Regions from separate parts of the Homo sapiens genome. Here region 1 is linked to region 2. The links come from fine-mapping of genetic effects on gene expression. Tissue or cell type: whole blood. Region 2 holds a variant in brackets; the other region holds the start of a gene. All regions are shown on one strand. Distances are from middle to middle. Region 1 holds the start of MMRN1 (multimerin 1). Region 2 has its middle 22 kb from the start of SNCA.

Region 1 (9,515 bases), 36 kb after region 2:
TTTCTAAAAACTTTCTCTTCTTTCCAGGCTGACAATTCTCTAGTCCTTGGCCTAAAGAGAGCTTTTATTGGGGCTTTTATTGTTTCTGCCCATTGGCGTTCCTAGTTTGCCAAATTCTCCAGTACCCAGAAATGAGGCAAAAGTAAACTTGGGAACTCAGTGCTTCATTGTTCCTTGGGTCACCTAGCCATTCTGCCTTCTTTTCTCCACTCTTCAGAGTCTTATTCTATTTTTTCTATATATAATGTCCATATTTTCAGATGTACTTAGCAGAAGGAATAGGGAGATATGTCTATTCCATATTTCCAGAAGTGGAAGTCACTAATGATAATCACTTGATAACCAGATACAGCTTTCCATTAAGAAAATGAAAATATGGTTATTTCTAAAATGATCAAAAGAAATGCGTTTTGAACTCTTTCACTTCAAGGGTACTGTTCTGCGTAAATGGGAAATATAAAATCAGCAATGACATGGTTTTGTGAACTATTCTTACATTCATTTTCTCATGAGGGGCATTTGGTCATCTTTATCAGTATGTTCCTTATGATCTTATAAAGTTAAAATTTTAATATTAGGACAAATATGTTGTTTTTTTTTCCTGATAAACTAATATGTTTCTCTCACTTAATATTAAGAATTATATAATTCATTAATTGTCCATCTTCCCTTTCCTGCCAGCCCACTCAAACCTAAATTTTCTTACTTCCAATTTATTTGCTTATCTTAAATTTTTCTAGCATCACTACTGCTTCATTATCTTTTATTCTACAACTCCCAGTCTTTGGTTTATTATTCTAATGTGGCTGTGACGGCTTCAAAATAAACCTTCTCATATTTATTTTGAGAATAGATAATATAGAAACAATGGGCTTTCTGAATTTTCTTTAGGAGTAACTTACAGGAGGCAATCTGACTGAATGGGTATTTCAGAAGACTTTTGAAGGTGTGTTCCCGGAACAAGTTCATTATATTTATTTAGATTACTTTTTTTTTCTTTTGTGTGGCTATAATAATGTGAAATAGAGCCCTCTTCAACCCATTTGTTATCACTATACATAGGAGTATGGTCATAGCTTCATCTATTCGTTCACTGATTCAACAAATATTTACCGAATACCTATTGAATCAGGATTGGGCATAAATATCTGTTCTAACAATTACTAATGTGTTACCCTAGGAAGTTATTTAACTTCTTTAAGTTTAACTTCCCATGAGTATAACAAGAATAGAATACTTACCTAACATGTTTGTAAGAATTAAATAATATGCCAAATTTAACTTACCTAGCACATCGACTCATCAAAATCATGCAGAAATCAGTTTCTCTTCTTCTCCAGCCCTTTTGCTGTATGTTGATAACCCCCTTTGTCCACATGTAAATTTGACAGGTTTTCAATATTTTTCAAACACCATTAAATTGAAAAAGCTCTAAAATTTGTTTTCTTCTATTATTTTTTGACAGATATGTCTTATGGAGGAAGGTAATAATGAAATCATATTTTGGATGTTTTAAACTATTTTAAGAAAATAGGAATTTCTCATGTGAAAAATGAAGAAAACAGCTGCTGAAAAATCCTATTAATCTGGTGGAAGTTAGCCCATACCCCCAACATTTTACAAAGAATAAGTCTTGCAGCTATAAAAATGCTTTGAATAGTACACAGCACCATCTACAGTGAACTCCTCAATCTAAGATTCTCTTTTAACTCACATTTATATTTTCTTTTAACTTAATAATCTTTTTTTGTTTTTTTTTCTTGTGGTTAGAAAATTAATTCATATGCATTATAAGGTGGAAAAGAACCAAACCCATTATCTCATCACCTACAGACAACCCATGTTGCAGTATATAGTGAATCCTATGTTTATGATACAATGAAAAATGACATAAAAATCTCCTGATAACTCATAATATAATAAATTTCATGATTTTTATCTTATAAAATATTCATGGTGAACAAATGGCAAGATGGTAAAACATAATTTAATATGAACAACCAAGTGGGAAATGGGAGGTATAGCAAAATGACAGGGTCCAGTTATACAAAACTGATGATATAGTTTAATCCAACAATAGTATTTTAGTATCTAGTATCTAGTATAATAGTATCTAGAAGAATGAGTAAACTGAGTACTCTTCAGCCAGTCATCTCAGCAATATTATTTTTCTTAATTGTTATTTAATGAGTATTAATTAGTCTCAGAAAGAAGAATTTGAGACAAGGTCTCTGACAATTTCTGGAGTATTTTATACCTCTAATTAAGGGCTGATCCATATACCCAAAATCACTAAATGAGCTTGAGATTCTCTGGGGAGTTAAAGTGCAAGATGGCTTAGTAGATCAATAGTGAGATACAGAACCTTTAGCCTTTTGATTTCAGGGTCCCTTGTAAGCTAGGATAGGGGTGAGCAAAAGTCATTATTGGTCAATACCTTATAAGTGGTTAAATGAATTGCTTAGCTTTGTTCAGTTTTTATTATCATTGGATAACTATTTGTTATCAGTTATAGATCCAATGGGTGACATTTTACCACTAAAGTTCACTTGCCAGACCAGGTTTGAACAGTCTTTCAAACTGTAGAAGAAAACAAAAAATCAGTGAATGTCATTATTTTGGCAGTTTTGTAAATCTTCAAGACAGTCCATTCATCTATTTTTACTAAAGCTAGGAAAATTGGTGTAAAATTGAATATAAATAGGAACATTTTTCCTAAATTTTATGAAATTACTGCTCTTCCATAAGCCAAAGCTAGTTTCTTCTGTGTTTTCCAGATAAAGACACTGTAAAGCCTTTTTCTTTCTACTGAAAACCATGTTTGTATTGTGACAGTTGTGCAGTTTCATTGCTCTTTTGCTCTTTTTAGTAACTAATCGTTTCCTGGATTGTCTCTGCTGGACCTTTTTGCTCCTTTACTAAGGCAAGGTTTGTGGATTGTTCTGTGGTATATCTGAGAAACGGATGCTTTTTACTCCATATCAGAGTCGATTGGGGTTGCTGATGATTGTCTTAGTTTAAATAAATACTCTCTAGTAGGTCAACAATACACTTACGGAAATAAATGGCAAAGATTGAGGGAAGAAAAAAATATTAATCCCAAGTAGTTAGTAGCTCAAGGAAGAATTAGGCCTTATTTCAAATCCTGGTGCACTGTGTCCAGGAATAAGGACTAGAGAAAATATCTACAATAAAACATAACCAAGCAGGCATTAGATTTCCAATTCTCTAATTTTGAAAGACGGAACTTAATAATCTAATAACAAAAAATAAAATCTAATAATAGTTTAACAATCAATGACTGAATATTTAGCAAGAGCATAATGCCTGGCACAGAAGTTGACAGAAAAATGGGTTACACATGGATTTAGCTTCCAAATAACATAACAGACATTTAGCAAATTGACAGCAAAGAATATTTTTGTTTTCCTTATAATCCTAGCACATAAGAGAGTGCTTTGCACAGAATGAGGGGTTATGTAACTACTGAATTCATGAATACATAAATAAATGAATGAGTGAATGAATGAATGAACTATTATAACTTAGTTTGTATATCTATTTAAACAGACTGATATGAAATTTTATAGATAAGAGGTTAATTGAAATCTGAGGATCAGAGATTTGCTGGAGAAATTAAATGATAAATCTCATGAAACATCTCTACCAGAAAAAAACCCATAGAAAACTCAGATAAATCTGGTTCTCTGCTACCTACAACTGGCATAATTTTGTCCTACAGTAAATGTATAAAAGCATTCTATATGATCCCATTTTAATTTATTTTTATGTGACTCCATTTTTTCTTCATCTATCCCTTACTAGTAAAATATTGGTTACCCCCAACCATCAGACAATCGTGATTGGAAAATAAAGGAAGTAAAATTCTGATTATTTATTCCATTAGTGGGTATCTCTGGTAGAAGTTCCAGGAGCAAAATTTAAAGTGACTTCCTGGTATACCTGTCTAATTCAATTACTTATGCTTTCCTTTTCTGTTATTACTTATAATCATTGAGATTAAGTAATGATACAGCTGAAGTGTATTTATAAAAATAGAAAGATATACATGTATGTAGATAGATGTTTTATAATTCAGAGTATATGTACTATATGAAAGGATAGAGACACTGTAAACAAGCTTTTGATTATGTGTATGCATGTGGATATACACTTGAACAAAATGCAGCTTTCTGGATAGAGCACAGCAGATAAGTATCATAAAAACTTTTCTCAGTGTCTTTATGTAGTAGAACAAAATGTTAAAACTGTATTCAGCCTATATCAACAAAATTTTGCACTCTCTATCGTGAACCTGAAATTTCTCTTTGAAATCAGTGAAACGTGAAACCAGGGTGTGCTCAGGAAAAGAAAGTTACTTCATATTTTTTCATGGGTTTTCCTGATAATAATTGCCTGTGCTTTCCCATTTACCCTTAGCTTTGTCAGAGACCCTTCAGCACTTCCATAGAGCCATCCCACTAGAGGTCACAGATCACAAAAACCCTACAGAAACAGGAAACCGAACTTCCTGAGTACGCTACAAAACACAGAAACCTGTTTCCTCTACACATCTCAAACTGGCAAAACTCAGTCTTAGCAGATTCAGTGTGGAAGCAGCTATCAAAAAGGCCATAAGGATTTTGTCCCCAAATTTCACATGAGCTACCTTGCTTCAAACTACTGAGATGAAGGGGGCAAGATTATTTGTCCTTCTTTCTAGTTTATGGAGTGGGGGCATTGGGCTTAACAACAGTAAGCATTCTTGGACTATACCTGAGGATGGGAACTCTCAGAAGACTATGCCTTCTGCTTCAGTTCCTCCAAATAAAATACAAAGTTTGCAAATACTGCCAACCACTCGGGTCATGTCGGCGGAGATAGCTACAACTCCAGAGGCAAGAACTTCTGAAGACAGTCTTCTTAAATCAACACTGCCTCCCTCAGAAACAAGTGCACCTGCTGAGGGTGTGAGAAATCAAACTCTCACATCCACAGAGAAAGCAGAAGGAGTGGTCAAGTTACAGAATCTTACCCTCCCAACCAACGCTAGCATCAAGTTCAATCCTGGAGCAGAATCAGTGGTCCTTTCCAATTCTACACTGAAATTTCTTCAGAGCTTTGCCAGAAAGTCAAATGAACAAGCAACTTCTCTAAACACAGTTGGAGGCACTGGAGGCATTGGAGGCGTTGGAGGCACTGGAGGCGTGGGAAATCGAGCCCCACGGGAAACATACCTCAGCCGGGGTGACAGCAGTTCCAGCCAAAGAACTGACTACCAAAAATCAAATTTCGAAACAACTAGAGGAAAGTAAGAAATCTTCTTTTCTTTTTGTTCTTTCTCTGTCTATCAGGTCTAGAAGATTGCAAGTGAAATTTACCTCACTCCCAGAAAATTATTTCAAATTCAAGATGAAATTGGATCATATTTATAATTTCACCATTTCAGTTAGATAAAGTTATTGTTAATTTATCTAATAGGGAAAAATGAAGAAATAAAATGCAGCAATTTTGTTTTAACTGAAATAATCATTCACTTTTCTACTCACTTATAGAGGTAGTTTTACTTAGAATAGTCATTGCCAAGCAAACTAGCACCACGGTGGCTGTTAGTTTAATTCAAGGATATGTTGATTGTGTTCCCAACCATATTCACAATATGAAAGACAAAAATAAACAAATAAATAAAATTGGGGCTTGAACAGATGTGAAAATTGGAATAGCAGTATTATAAAAAGTAACAGTTGTCAAAGATCGAAACAAGCACACCAGGGGTGCAATCCTGGCTTCAGTATGGTCTAGTTCCATGATTTTGAGCAACTCAGTTGATGTCTGTGAACCTCAGTTTCTTCATATGGAAACTACAGATTTAATACAAGGAATGTCAATAAAAATAAAACTTTGCAGGGTTCTCGTTCAGATAAAAATGAATGAAAAGTGCTTAGATGCATGCTCCTCACAGAATAGGTGCTCAACAACTCAAATTTTGCTAGTACCATGATTATTTTGAGTTGTGTTGCCATCATGAATATGATGAATCAGAAAACTTATTTTTCAAATTAATTTTAATTTAAAGTTAGAGCAATTTGAGTGGTTGAAATAAAATAAAACAAATTTAAAGGAGTGTTGTTAAAGAGGGTTTTCAAAAGAAGTGATAGTCAAATCAAAATAAACAAAGAAAAAATATCTGGGTGGGTCAATATTTTATTCATTTAATGCTCAGAGTCATCTGTATGTTTGGAATACTAGAAGTTTAGTATTGCAAAACTAAACTTACAAATAGTTTTTACATGTAATAATACAAAGTCAAGACACCAGACATGTCTTGGGAGCAAAATGGGGTTAAATATCTTACTAATAATAAAATAAAATCCAAGTTAAAAATAGAAGTTGACACACCTGCTATGTGAAAGACATTTAGTTAAAGCTGTTGCTGATATAAAGGTGAGAAGAAGAGAGACACTGGTAAGAATTCTAGCCAATGAATTTACTTATTTCTGTATTATTTATTATTCAAGTCTATTTTTCACTATATTTCAAAAGTTATAGAATTTTTCGAAATATATAAGTAAATCTGATTGTAACTAAAAAAGTATTCACTTGGTGGACTTTGGAACAATCCCAGCTTACTGTAAAACAAATAGTACAGATTACAATATGTTCACTTTGGGACAAGTAGATTTGCCATTAAAAAAACATTTAACAGACATGCATTAATCTTTCTCACTTTGGGGGACAACAGGATTTTATCTATTAAATAATCAGAAATGTCATTTATTGACAGCTTTTTCTAAATCACTTGAATGCATCATTTCTGTTAATCATATTTTATTAGAGGCTGTAATTAAATTTTTAAAAACTAATTACAGTAAAACCCTTGGACATTCATGGGAAACGATTGTGAGCTTTTCAGAGATGCTATAGCTAAGAATTTTTTTTTTTTTGAGACGGAGTCTCGCTCTCTTGCCAGGCTGGAGTGCAGTGGCACAATCTCGGCTCACTGCAATCTTCGACTCCCAGGTTCAAGCGATTCTCTTGCCTCAGCCTTCTGAGTAGCTGGGACTACAGGTGGTGTGCCATCACACCCAGCTAATTTTTGTATTTTTAGTAGAGATGGGGTTTCACCATGTTGGCCAGGGTGGTCTTGATCTCTTGACCTCATGATCCACCCACCTCAGCCTCCCAAAGTGCTGGGATTACAGGCGTGAGCCACCGCACCCAGCCAGAATTTTTTAATAGAAAGGGAAATATAATAAACAGAAAAAAGAGACAATTCAAGTTAAAATAGCATTTAAATTTTACATACCATATAGAAAGTGGCATACAGTTGTGTCATAATTAGAACTAGTAACTAATAGTTTGATAAATACTAGTTTTTAAATAAATGCTAGTTGTGTTATCCAAGGTCCTTGCTTTCAAATGTTGGGAACAATTTGATGAATATTTATAATTTGCCCATCATGTGCTAGCACTGTGCTAGGCTTTGGGTTACACAGAATTTAAAAAAATAATAATAATTCCTCTGTCTAAGGAATATTCCCTATAAAAAGTAAACACTAACATACCTATCAGACTTCAAAAAATGTTAATATGTGCTATGAGAAAACAAGATACTAAAGGTATAACTTGCTGAACAGAACTTTATCCTCTGGATTTTCTAACAAAAATAATCTTAAACTCCTTCTATAGAAAAGTACTAACTGCATGTAGGGATTCTCTTATTTGAGGTCCTGGAGAGCCTGAGGTTTTCTTTTAGTAATCCTTTCCATTACCAAGATTCCTTACTCATTAGGCCATGCAAATGACAATGGCATTAGAGAAAAGCCTAGGTCCTTCACTTTTGGACACAGTGCTGCTGCAAACCCTTGATATGGTCAAAAGAAGTCCTTCGTACTTTCATTTGATTGGCAAATAATAATAATAATAGTAGCAAACACTTATATGGCATCTGTTACTAGTACTCTACTATTGTCAGTGAATATATTCACTCATTTAATCATTACTATAACTCCATAAAGAAGAGGAAGATTTTTATCATTATTTCTTTACAGAGGGATTAAGTAGCTTACCTAAGGTCACTTGGCTAACAAAGCTCAGGGCAAAGACTCAAATCCAAGCTGGCTGGCTTTAGAGTTGTAGCTCTCAGCTCCTACATTACACTCCCTTGGCAGGTACAGTCTCTTATCACAAGTGGGAAGATAAGCGTGACCAGTTCACTTCCCAGCTCGTGAGGCTTCACAGGCTATTGGTTGCCTCCAGAATACAATCTAGATTTGTTACCCAGTTAGTCACACGATGCCATCCTAGATCTGCCTCCTGCCTACCTCCCCAACCTCATCTTCCGCCACTTCCGGCTATTCAAATAAGTGGTTCTCTGGTACAATATGTGCTGTTTGTTAAACCCACCTTTCTTCCCTGTCTGCCCCTGTGACTAACAATGGGCCCTCTTTTGCCATCGTTCTCTCTTTTCACACCTAATAATAACTCCAGGAAGCCTTCTCAGGTGAAGTTAGGTGGCCTTTCTAATCGCTCCTACAGGTCTCTTTGAATTCCCCTGTTCACTGCACTTACGACACTACATAATAATCATAATGAATTTGTAGTATCTTTGCATATAGGGACTTATTTTCAGAGCTAGCAAAGTCTCTGGTTTATAGCAGGTACACAATCAATATTTAATCATACTGAATGTGAAATATGAGGATTAATATGTGAATATAAAGAAGAAAGCTTCCCAAATATTTGCATTTGTTTATGAAAAAAACCTGGTTGATTTAGAATAAACTCATATTTGTTCTTTTTTCTACCATTCTTGGAATTTTATAATAATTCTTAGTAAAAGGCGTATTTATGTTTATTACAGGTTCTTTTCTAGATTATTCAGGATTATTCTGGCATATTTTTGTTTCATCTTGTAGTTTTTCTTCTTTTTTTTTTTAGCCTTGCAGGAACTCCTGGCCAAAATAGACCTATGGTTTCCTGTCTGGCAGAGTGGGTGTTAGTCAATGACCAAGCACTTTGAAATAGGAAGGATGGAAATAAGAAATTAGGATTAGTGTATTTATATGTTGAACAAATATTTGCTGAACACCTTATCTGTCCCAAGCACTGTGCTTGTGCTGGGAGTAAAACAATGAACAAGAACTCCTACATGTCCTGCCTTATGGAACCAACAGCCCAGTGGCAGAGGTGAGAGGAGGAATAACAGTGAATCACAAATGCTGATTCTGAATGAAGCTTAAGAAATTGTAGTGTATAATGGGGGGAATGGCCTACCAATTGTGAATGGGGTCAGTAAACCTTGCCTGAGAGGATAATAGGTGAAATGAGGTAATGATACAATCTAACTGCCTACTTAGCTTTTCCCACAATTCCCAACCCCTGTACACATGTATCTTAATTTTTACCAAATCAGTGAATGGCTAGTTCCATAACTAGAAACCTTGGATAGATCTTTGGCATTTTTCTCTCCCTTCTGGTTTTTATCTAATCTATCAAAAAGTCTTGTTACACCT
Region 2 (9,515 bases):
CTTACCATCACCATGCCTAAGGAGGGGATTAATCTATTCATGAGGGATCTGCCCCCATTACCCAAACACCTTCCATGAAGCCCCATGTTCAACATTGGGGATCAAATTTCAACGTGAAGTTTGGAGAGGTCAAATATCCTAATGATAGCAGTATGGCTAAAATAATAAAGAAAATTGAAAAGCTTCACAGTTATACTCATTCTAGGTGAGGCTGGTCAATGAAGTAGCTACCATGGTTGATGGTCTGACTTGACCTTCTGAACTGCCAGACCTTGATTGAGACCTAGGTCTCATCCACGTGCATAGGCAGAGCTAAAACCTGAAAATTAGAAGAAATGACTTCAATCAACGTGGGATATAAATGAATACATTTTTACATATTATGCCTTGATTTTGGCAAAAATACTATTGAATTCAGATGCCTATATATTAATATAATTCTTATTCTGAAATAAACTTTGTTGACCTAGGGCAAGTGTCTTTTTCTTTAAGTACGCTTGTCACACTGCTACCAGGCTGACTTTTATGAATTTTTATACTGTTTCTCTCTTTCTCTTACATGACACTCTTTAGACACTCATCGTTGTTTACAAGGACTGGCCAATAATCTCCTCTGAGCTCTGACCTCTATGTAACCTGTCTAGGCTAATCCATGGCTCGTCTTATGTCCTACTGCAGTTCTACTGATTATTTACAATTGCTTATCTTCCAAGACTGCCCAAAAGTCATTTCTTTCATAAAGCCGTTTTTTCCCCTCCACTCCCTGAGAGTTGATAACTTCCTCTTTTGTGTCCTCACAATATCTTGAATCTGATTCTGAAATCTTCTTGTGGGAATTGTGCCCTCATTTACAGATGATCCCAAACTTATGATTTTTTGACTTTACAATGGTGTCAAAGTGATGCCCATTTAGTAGAAATTGTACTTAAAATTTTAAATTTTGATCTTTTCCTGGGCTATTGATATGTGATATAATACTATTACCTGAGATATTCAACACTTTATTGTAAAATGGGCTTTGTGTCATGCACAAACATAGCTTAGCCTAGCCTGCCTTAAAGGGCTCAGAATACTTACATTAGCCTACCCAAATGTAGGAGTCCAAATTTGTAGGTTAATGTGAGTGTTCTGAGCATTTTAAGTTAGGAAAAGCTTAAGCTATAGTGTTTGATAAGTTAGGTGTTTAAGTGTATTTTTGATTTGCAATATTTTTAATTTATGATAGGTTAATCGAGAAATAACATCACTGTAAATTGAGGAGCATCTGTAATTAGATGTTTGTTTTTTCATTTTCTCATATCCAAGCATCACCAGGACATTGCTCAACTAGATTACGTATTAAGTACTCAGTGATCATTTTATAAATGTGTAAATAAACATGTTAAAAATAATGTTGAGTCAGTGAGGGCAGTTCCAAGATGGCCGAATAGGAACAGCTCCAGTCTACAGCTTGCAGTGTGAGCAACGCAGAATACTGGTGATTTCTGCATTTCCAACTGAGGTACTGGGTTTATCTCACTGTGGCTTATTGGACAGTGGGTGCAGGACAGTGGGTGCAGCACATCGAGCATGACCCGAAGAACAGCGAGGCATTGCCTCACCCAGGAAGTGCAAGGGGTGAGGGAATTCCCTTTCATAGCCAAGCAAAGCTGTGACAGACGGCACCTGAAAAATCGGGTCACTCCCACCCAAATACTGCGCTTTTCCAATGGTCTTAGCAAGCGGCACACCAGGAAATTATATCCTGCGCCTGGCTCAGAGGGTCCCATGCCCACGGAGCCTTGCTCATTGCTAGCACAGCAGTCTGAGATTGAACTGTAAGGTGGCAGCGAGGCTGGGGGAAGGGCGCTCGCCATTGCTGAGGCTTGAGTAGGTAAACAAAGTGGCCAGGAAGCCCAAACTGGGGGGAGCCCACCGCAGTTCAAGGAGGCCTGCCTGCCTCTGTAGACTCCACCTCTGGGGGCAGGGCATAGCCAAACAAAAGGCAGCAGAAACCTCTGCAGACTTAAATGTCCCTGTCGAAGAGCTTTGAAGAGAGTAGTGGTTCTCCCAGCATGGAGTTTGGGATCTGAGAATGGAAAGACTGCCTCCTCAAGTTGGTCCTTCACCCCCGAGTAGCCTATCTGGGAGGCACCCCCAAGTAGGGGCAGACTGACACCTCGCACAGCCAGGTACCCCTCTGAGATGAAACCTCCAGAAGAGCGATCAGACAGCAACATTTGCTGTTCAGCAATTTTCGCTGTTCTGCAGGCTCTGCTGGTACCCAGGCAAACAGATTCTGGAGTGGACCTCCAGCAAACTCCAACAGACCTGCAGCTGAGGATCCTGACTGTCAAAAGGATAACTAACAAACAGAAAGGACATCCACACCAAAACTACAAGGCTACAGTAACCAAAATGGCACGGTACTGGTACCAAAACAGAGAGATAGACCAATGGAACAGAACAGAGCCCTCAGATAATACCACACATCTACAATGATCTGATCTCTGACAAACCTGACAAAAACAAGAAATTGGGAAAGGAGTCCCTATTTAACAAATGGTGCTGGGAAAACTGGCTAGCCATATGTAGAAAGCTGAAACTGGATCCCTTCCTTACACCTTATAGAAAAATTAATTCAAGATGGATTAAAGACTTCAATGTTAGATCTAAAACCATAAAAACCCTAGGAGAAAACCTAGGCAACACCATTCAGGACATAGGCATGGTCAAGGACTTCATGTCTAAAACACCAAAAGCAATGGCAACGAAAGCCAAAATTGACAAATAGGATCTAATTAAACTAAAGAGCTTCTGCACAGCAAAAGAAACTACCATCAGAGTGAACAGGTAACCTACAGAATGGGAGAAAATTTTTGCAATCTACTCATCTGACAAAGGGCTAATATCCAGAATCTACAAAGAACTCAAACAAATTTACAAGAAAAAAACAAACAACCCCATCAAAAAGTGGGCAAAGGATATGAACAGACACTTCTCAAAAGAAGACATTTATGCAGCCAACAGACACATGAAAAAAGGGTCATCATCACTGCCCATCAGAGAAATGCAAATCAAAACCACAACGAGATATTATCTCACACCAATTAGAATGGTGATCTTAAAAATTCAGGAAACAACAGGTGCTGGAGAGGATGTGGAGAAATAGGAACACTCTTATGCTGCTGATGGGACTGTAAACTAGTTCAACCATTGTGGAAGACAGTGTGGCAATTCCTCAGGGATCTAGAGCTAGAAATGCCATTTGATCCAGCCATCCCATTACTGGGTATATACCCAAAGGAATATAAATCATGTTGCTATAAAGACACATGCACATGTATGTTTATTGCGGCACTATTCACAATAGCAAAGACTTGGAACCAACCCAAATGTTCAACAATGATAGACTGGATTAAGAAAATGTGGCACATATACACCATGGAATACTATGCAGCCATAACAAATGATGAGTTCGTGTCCTTTGTAGAGACATGGATGAAGCTGGAAACCATCATTCTCAGCAAACTATCGCAAGGACAAAATACCAAACACCACATGTTCTCACTCATAGGTGGAAATTGAGCAATGAGAACACTTGGACACAGGAAGGGGAATATCACATGCAGGGGCCTGTTGTGGGGTGGGGGGATGGGGGAGGGATAGCATTAGGAGATCTACCTAATGTAAATGACGAGTTAGTGGGTGCAGCACACCAACATGGCACATGTATACATATGTAACAAACCTGCACATTGTGCACATGTACATTAGAACTTAAAGTATAATAAAAATATATATATAAAAGAATGTCGAAAAGCATATGGATGCTTTCAATAATCTAAGGATGTTTCACATAGAATATGATTAATAACAAAACCTTCAATTTTAAATATAACTATTTAAAATTTAATAAACATCATTACATGCCTATTCAATGGCAGGCATGGTGTTAAATACTAATTGTTTTTAAGACATAATCCATGATTTTGATGAACTCAAATTGTAAAAGGGTAAAGCCGGGTGTAAGAGCAATCTTGCATCTCTTAATGGCAGGACTCACATTATAAATGAAGATTTTAATGTAAGATTATTGAATTAAAACAAAATAATGAAGGCAATGAGAAGGCTAACTATATAATTTTGAATTCAGAACAGGCACTTCTGAGAGTGAAAGGAGACACTCCTGACAATTATGCTAGTCAGCAAGTATAAAACTGGAATATCTACATTTGGACAAACTGGGATGCATATTCATCCTAGTTAGAGGAGCATAATAATAAAAGATTTAAATAAGAGAAAAATGTGATCCGATTTGTTTTGCTTAAAGAGCACTGTGATATCTTGCAGATATTTGGAGGGGATGAAAACTAGATTTGGGGGAAAAAATTAGGATGTTATCTAGAAAGAAATTAGGAGATGCAAAAATAAGGCACTGACAATACAAATGTTAAAGGAAAAAATAATTTGAAAAACATTGGAAATGCAATGGATATGACTTAGGGATGCTTGTATGAGAGAATTGAGGAAGAGGGAGATGTCAAAATGGTTTGCTAATTTCTGATTTGGGAATATGTGAAGATGTTAAGGGCCTCCAACAAGAAAATGGTTCCCAGACATACTTCATAATACTTTTAACTTGAAGAACATTTTATTTAAAGGAAAGAATAAGTGTGACTTAAATCTATTTTGCTTTTGAAAACATAATCTGAACTAACTTGAATAAGCATGCTGTTTATAATATTTATGGAACATATGGGTGTTTATT[G/C]CCCTTTGAAAACACATTTAACAGTTTTAAAATATATTCAGCCCTTCATCACCTTCTCCTAAAAACCTTTTCTGATCTCTCAAGTTGGCCTCAGTATTCACAAGCCACTGTGTGTACTCTCCTATTGCTACACCTGTGACATTATGTGAAAGTAATCTATTTATATATATATGTTTATATATATATAAATAATATAAATATATATTTATATATATAAATATATATAATATAAGGAAGATATATATATCTTCCCTATTTGTAGAGTGCACACTACTTCAGTGTGGGGAGAAAATACTGTTATTATTTCTACCCCATGCTTTGTTCAATGCCTGCAAAGTATTAGGCAGTCAATAAATGTGTATTGAACTGGGACAAACACCAGGCATATATTATTTTTGCAGGAAAAGACATTTCACATTTTTAACTCAGAATGTTGGTGTTTATTGTGTGCTTTTTATGTGCCATGTGCTGTAAAAATATGTGAAAATATGAAGAAATGCTGTTCTAGGCAGAGGGAACAGCATGAACACAGAGCCACCACTACTAAAATAGAGAATCTCGATTTTTAAGAGAGACTTCATCTTTGGGGATAATGGGATTGGAAATATCTCTGGATTCTAAAGCAGCAGTGGAGGCTTCTGCTGTGTAGATTGAGAGAGAAAAGAGGACTATATTGGTGACTACGTTTGGATGGAAAGATAAAAGAGAATAGGCTGAGAACTCCAGGGGGAAACTTCTGAAAAGGCAGGGAGGGAGACTAGGGTTCAAGGGAGAAGGAAGACAAGAAGAGAGACATACACTTGTATGTAAAACATGCCCAACCCTGTACAGTTGAGTTCCGGGATGAGTATTTCCCCAAACATAGACCACCATACAGGAAATTCGTTGTGAAAAAATTTACAAGTTTAATTTTAACAATACAATCAGATCTGGTTTCTATAAGAAGAAACTTTTAAAAGTGAAGAGAGGTATCTATCAATATCAGAATTATTTTTTTCCTGAATGAAGCTAAGTGTTTTGATTTTTGTCCTTCTAGATACACTAAATCCATGGTTTTTATATGGGCCTGTGGTGGGGCCTGAGAATGTGCATTTCTAACTCATTTCCCAGGTAATGCTGATGGTGCTGGCCCAAGAATCATACCTGGAGAAGTACTGCAGTAAATGGACTAAATGTCCAGGTAGTTGGTGTCAAATAAACACAAGCTAAAGTAAATTATAATTTTACTAATTAATTTCTATATTTTAGCATGTTAGATCATTTTATAAAAAATATTCTTACATTAATCCTATAAATATGTTATAAATATATACTTTAATATAACCTATATAAGTACTTGTATAAGTATATTCCAAAAGTGTAACTACTTACACTTATATAAGTTATAAATATATATCTATAATTCCATCACTCAAATAAAGTACATTGGAGTAATTACATCACTTAAATAAAAGTAAAGATTGCTAACACCAATAGTAAGTGTTTATTGATAGCTTATTATGGCCCAGGCTGTGACCTAGTGTTTTTAATTAATTAATTAATACTTGTTAATTAAGTTAATTAACCTCATTCAATCCTCTGAATTGTGTTGGATACTCACAGTAGTATTTACTCCGCAAATCAGGAAACTGTCGCTGAGGCCATAGTTTGAGGCCGAGGACCCAAGCTGGGCTGATCCAGAGCCTCATTCTTGGCCACGTGCTCTTTTGTTCTGCCTCAGGCAATGAAGCAGACAATAGATTCACAGAGGGATCATGGACATACCCTAGAGCTGCTCTTCTCCTTTTCTAGGACTAATGTATTCTGCTTTGAAATATAAGGTCTTTTTTGGCAGTATCGCAATATAGCAGCATGCTGTTAATCCAGTGAAAAGTGCACTGAGCTGCTGTCCATATTTATACATTTAAAAGGCATTGGGAATTATATATTTCACTTTTGTGGTCCAAAATTTATTCCCTGGACAATAACAGAAACTTGTGTAAATCCCATTTATAGGTTCTATGGCACAGATCCCAATCCTATGGGGAGCAATATACCTCAGGAATATTGTACAACAATGCTCTGAACTTCAGTTTGAAGGCTGCCCTCCTCTCACAAGGAAGGGGAGGTTTGTGGCTGATATCAGCCTTATATATAGAGAGAGGTCATCTAAAGCAAGAAAAAGTAAGATTTAGCCTTTTCTAGGTGATTTGAAATTGGATCTCTTTTAATATGCAGCAGCACACTGTTGACGTAGTAGGTAGGCATGTGCAACTGAGGTATTTTGTACTTTCAAATGAGTAGTAAGGAAGTCAAAACTTTTAACTTAAATAAGCCAATTTCTTAGACATTATCTATAAGATGATTAGAAAAGAACAAGGATTGAAAGTTGGGGAGGAAGGAAGAAACATTTTCCATCACATACATATTGCTTACAGATTTATCTCGGATAATAGGGACTGTGAACAAAAGTTCTCTGAAAAGGAATTTGGAAGAAAGAGACTTTATTCCAGTGAACAGTTTGCAAACCGTGATTCAAAGCTTTTGGTGTAAAATGAAGGTGTGATCCAGAGAACCAAGAGAGGGTTCAGTTATTATGGCAAAAGTTCCCACCCAAGTTTCCAGTCAGGTTTGTTTATGCAAATGCTCAGTTCCCATTGTTTGATACAGCTGAGCCCTGATTGGTTGAAGCAGTCCAGGCCTGATTGGTAGATCAGGTGAGCTCTGGAAGTCCCAAAGTTGAGCAGAGCTGTAGGTTTTCAGGGAACTCAGAGTATACATGTGTGATCTTTAGTCAGCAAATGGCCACTTGCCTCTATTTAAAACATAGCCCCATTTAGCCACTCAGGTTGTATTTTGAAAGATTGGCTCTTTCGGTTCACATTTGTTCACTGGACTAAGGTATTTGCAGATTAGGAGTAAAAGAGAATGAACTTCCTAAGTTTCATTTTGGTAAGTGAAGGAAAATATAGCTATCTCGATTACTAGGAACCAACCGTTTTCCAAATTTTAGAGTTTTCATGAGGAGGCATTTTCCCTGAATTATTCTGAATTCTTTCCCTACCCCTTATTCTGCTCAGGAGAGCTTCAGTGATTTAATAAATGGGTTAAAATTGGGAAGAATATACAATTAGGCTTGGTTTAGCTAATTCTTGTTACCACTTGGGGAAAAGCTGTCATTTTTCTATTTCTTCTCGACGTAAGTCTTCACTTGGGCACCGTAGCACTTTGGAATGCCTTCCTCACAATTCTCCAAATCGCCCTCCCTCCCACGCTGGGAACTTCAGGGTTTGCAGTGCTTTTCAGGAGCTGCACTCTCAGCCTGAACAGGACCCCTGTGGGCCAGCCTCTTCACCCTTTTGAGATGCTACTCTCAGACTTCCTAGCCCTGCTGCCTGTGGGGTCAACCAGATGCCCCACAGAATGCTGGGGCTCAAGCCTATAGAATAATTCTGGGACTCTATGGTTAATTCAGGTCTAGGAGGGCAGCCTGGCTAGTGGATCACTTCTCACTGAGTGGAGAGGTATTTCTTTGCAAGATTTGGTAGGCAGAACCACGCTGAAATGTCTTTTAGGGTGACCCACTCATGTTGAACACAGGGCCAGTGCAGGGTTCCCAGCTAGCTATACACTATCACTGACCCTGGGAGCTTGAGCCGTGTGTCTGGGCTCTTGCATGTGGTCTCAACTGTCCATGTTTCCTTCATGGTACCACCTCAGGTCTACAGCACCGCAAGAGTTGGGTGGGGAAAGGTGCTCTGTACCCTGTGTGCCCCTCCAGCTACTGTGCCACTCTTTCCACAGGCTCTGTGGAAAGGAGAGAGTGCAGTGCACCAGGGAAGGCCCAGAGATACTGGTGTGTGCTGGAATAATCTGATGGTGTTTCATGGGATAAATTGTGTAAGTAGCAATCAGAGGTGAAGACTGAGAGCAAGCGGAACTGGAAGGTGCAATGGATAGGAGGGCAGAGTGTAAACAACAAACCGGTATCTCAGCAACAAAATCATGCATTTCTGTGTTGAGTGTTTTATCTTGAGCATCTGGAAAAAAGGTGGCAGCTTTGATAGAGAAAATTTTAAAAGGCAGGCCGAAACTTGGGTTCTAAGGAAAGCTGACTTAGTTTTTCTTTTTTTTCAACATTTTCATGAATTGCTGGGATAAACACTTCTTTCTGCTTACTTGCCTTTCAAGCCCGCAGATCACTCTTTATGAACGTAGAATGTGGTTTCCCTAAGTCGGCCTGACACAGGTGAGGAGACGCTGGGGAACTTTATCATTTCCTGACACACAGTGACTCCTTGATATCTCAATAGTCCTGCCATGTACTTTACCTGCTGCATGTAGCCATGTGTTTAAGTTGGGCAGTGATATGGGCCAACTTGAGATGAAGTTGGTAAAGTTAAATGTTAATGACTTAAAATGACAGTCATATTCAAACTAACTTTACTTTTACCTTCTGTCTTTCTGTGTGTAATATTACTAATATATTAATCTTAACACCAACAAAACTTTAGATAAACATTTCTGATACATTTCAAGACTGAACATATTTAAAACTTTTAACTTTTGAAATAATATGGGATGTACAAAAGAATTGTAAAGTATGAAGCATTTCTGTATATTTTCCATGCAGTTTTCCCCAATATTAACATATTGTGCTACTATGGCACATTTATTTTAAAAGTTAGCATTTTAAATTTTGTTTTTGAAAAATGAAAGTTTCAAGAGTGGACGAAAATATAAAATTTGCCTAATTTTCACAACTTTATATGTATTTATCCATATG

The links. PIP is the estimated chance that this variant, and not a neighbour inherited with it, causes the effect. A credible set is the group of variants that fine-mapping cannot tell apart.
Region 1: MMRN1 starts here. The variant in region 2 is the best candidate, but not a certain one, in a credible set for the expression of MMRN1 in whole blood (INTERVAL, PIP 0.85).

What each region holds. Positions count from the first base shown.
Region 1 is chr4:89,890,284-89,899,798 of GRCh38, forward strand. MMRN1 (multimerin 1) reads left to right here and starts at 4,571. Exons shown (of 8, transcript NM_007351.3): 1 at 4,571-5,311. The coding sequence starts at 4,689. RefSeq lists a silencer at 8,022-8,222.
Region 2 is chr4:89,854,728-89,864,242 of GRCh38, forward strand. No RefSeq gene overlaps it. Among named protein-coding and RNA genes, the nearest start is that of SNCA, 22 kb to the left of the region's middle. The variant G/C (reference allele first, on the strand shown) is at 4,751.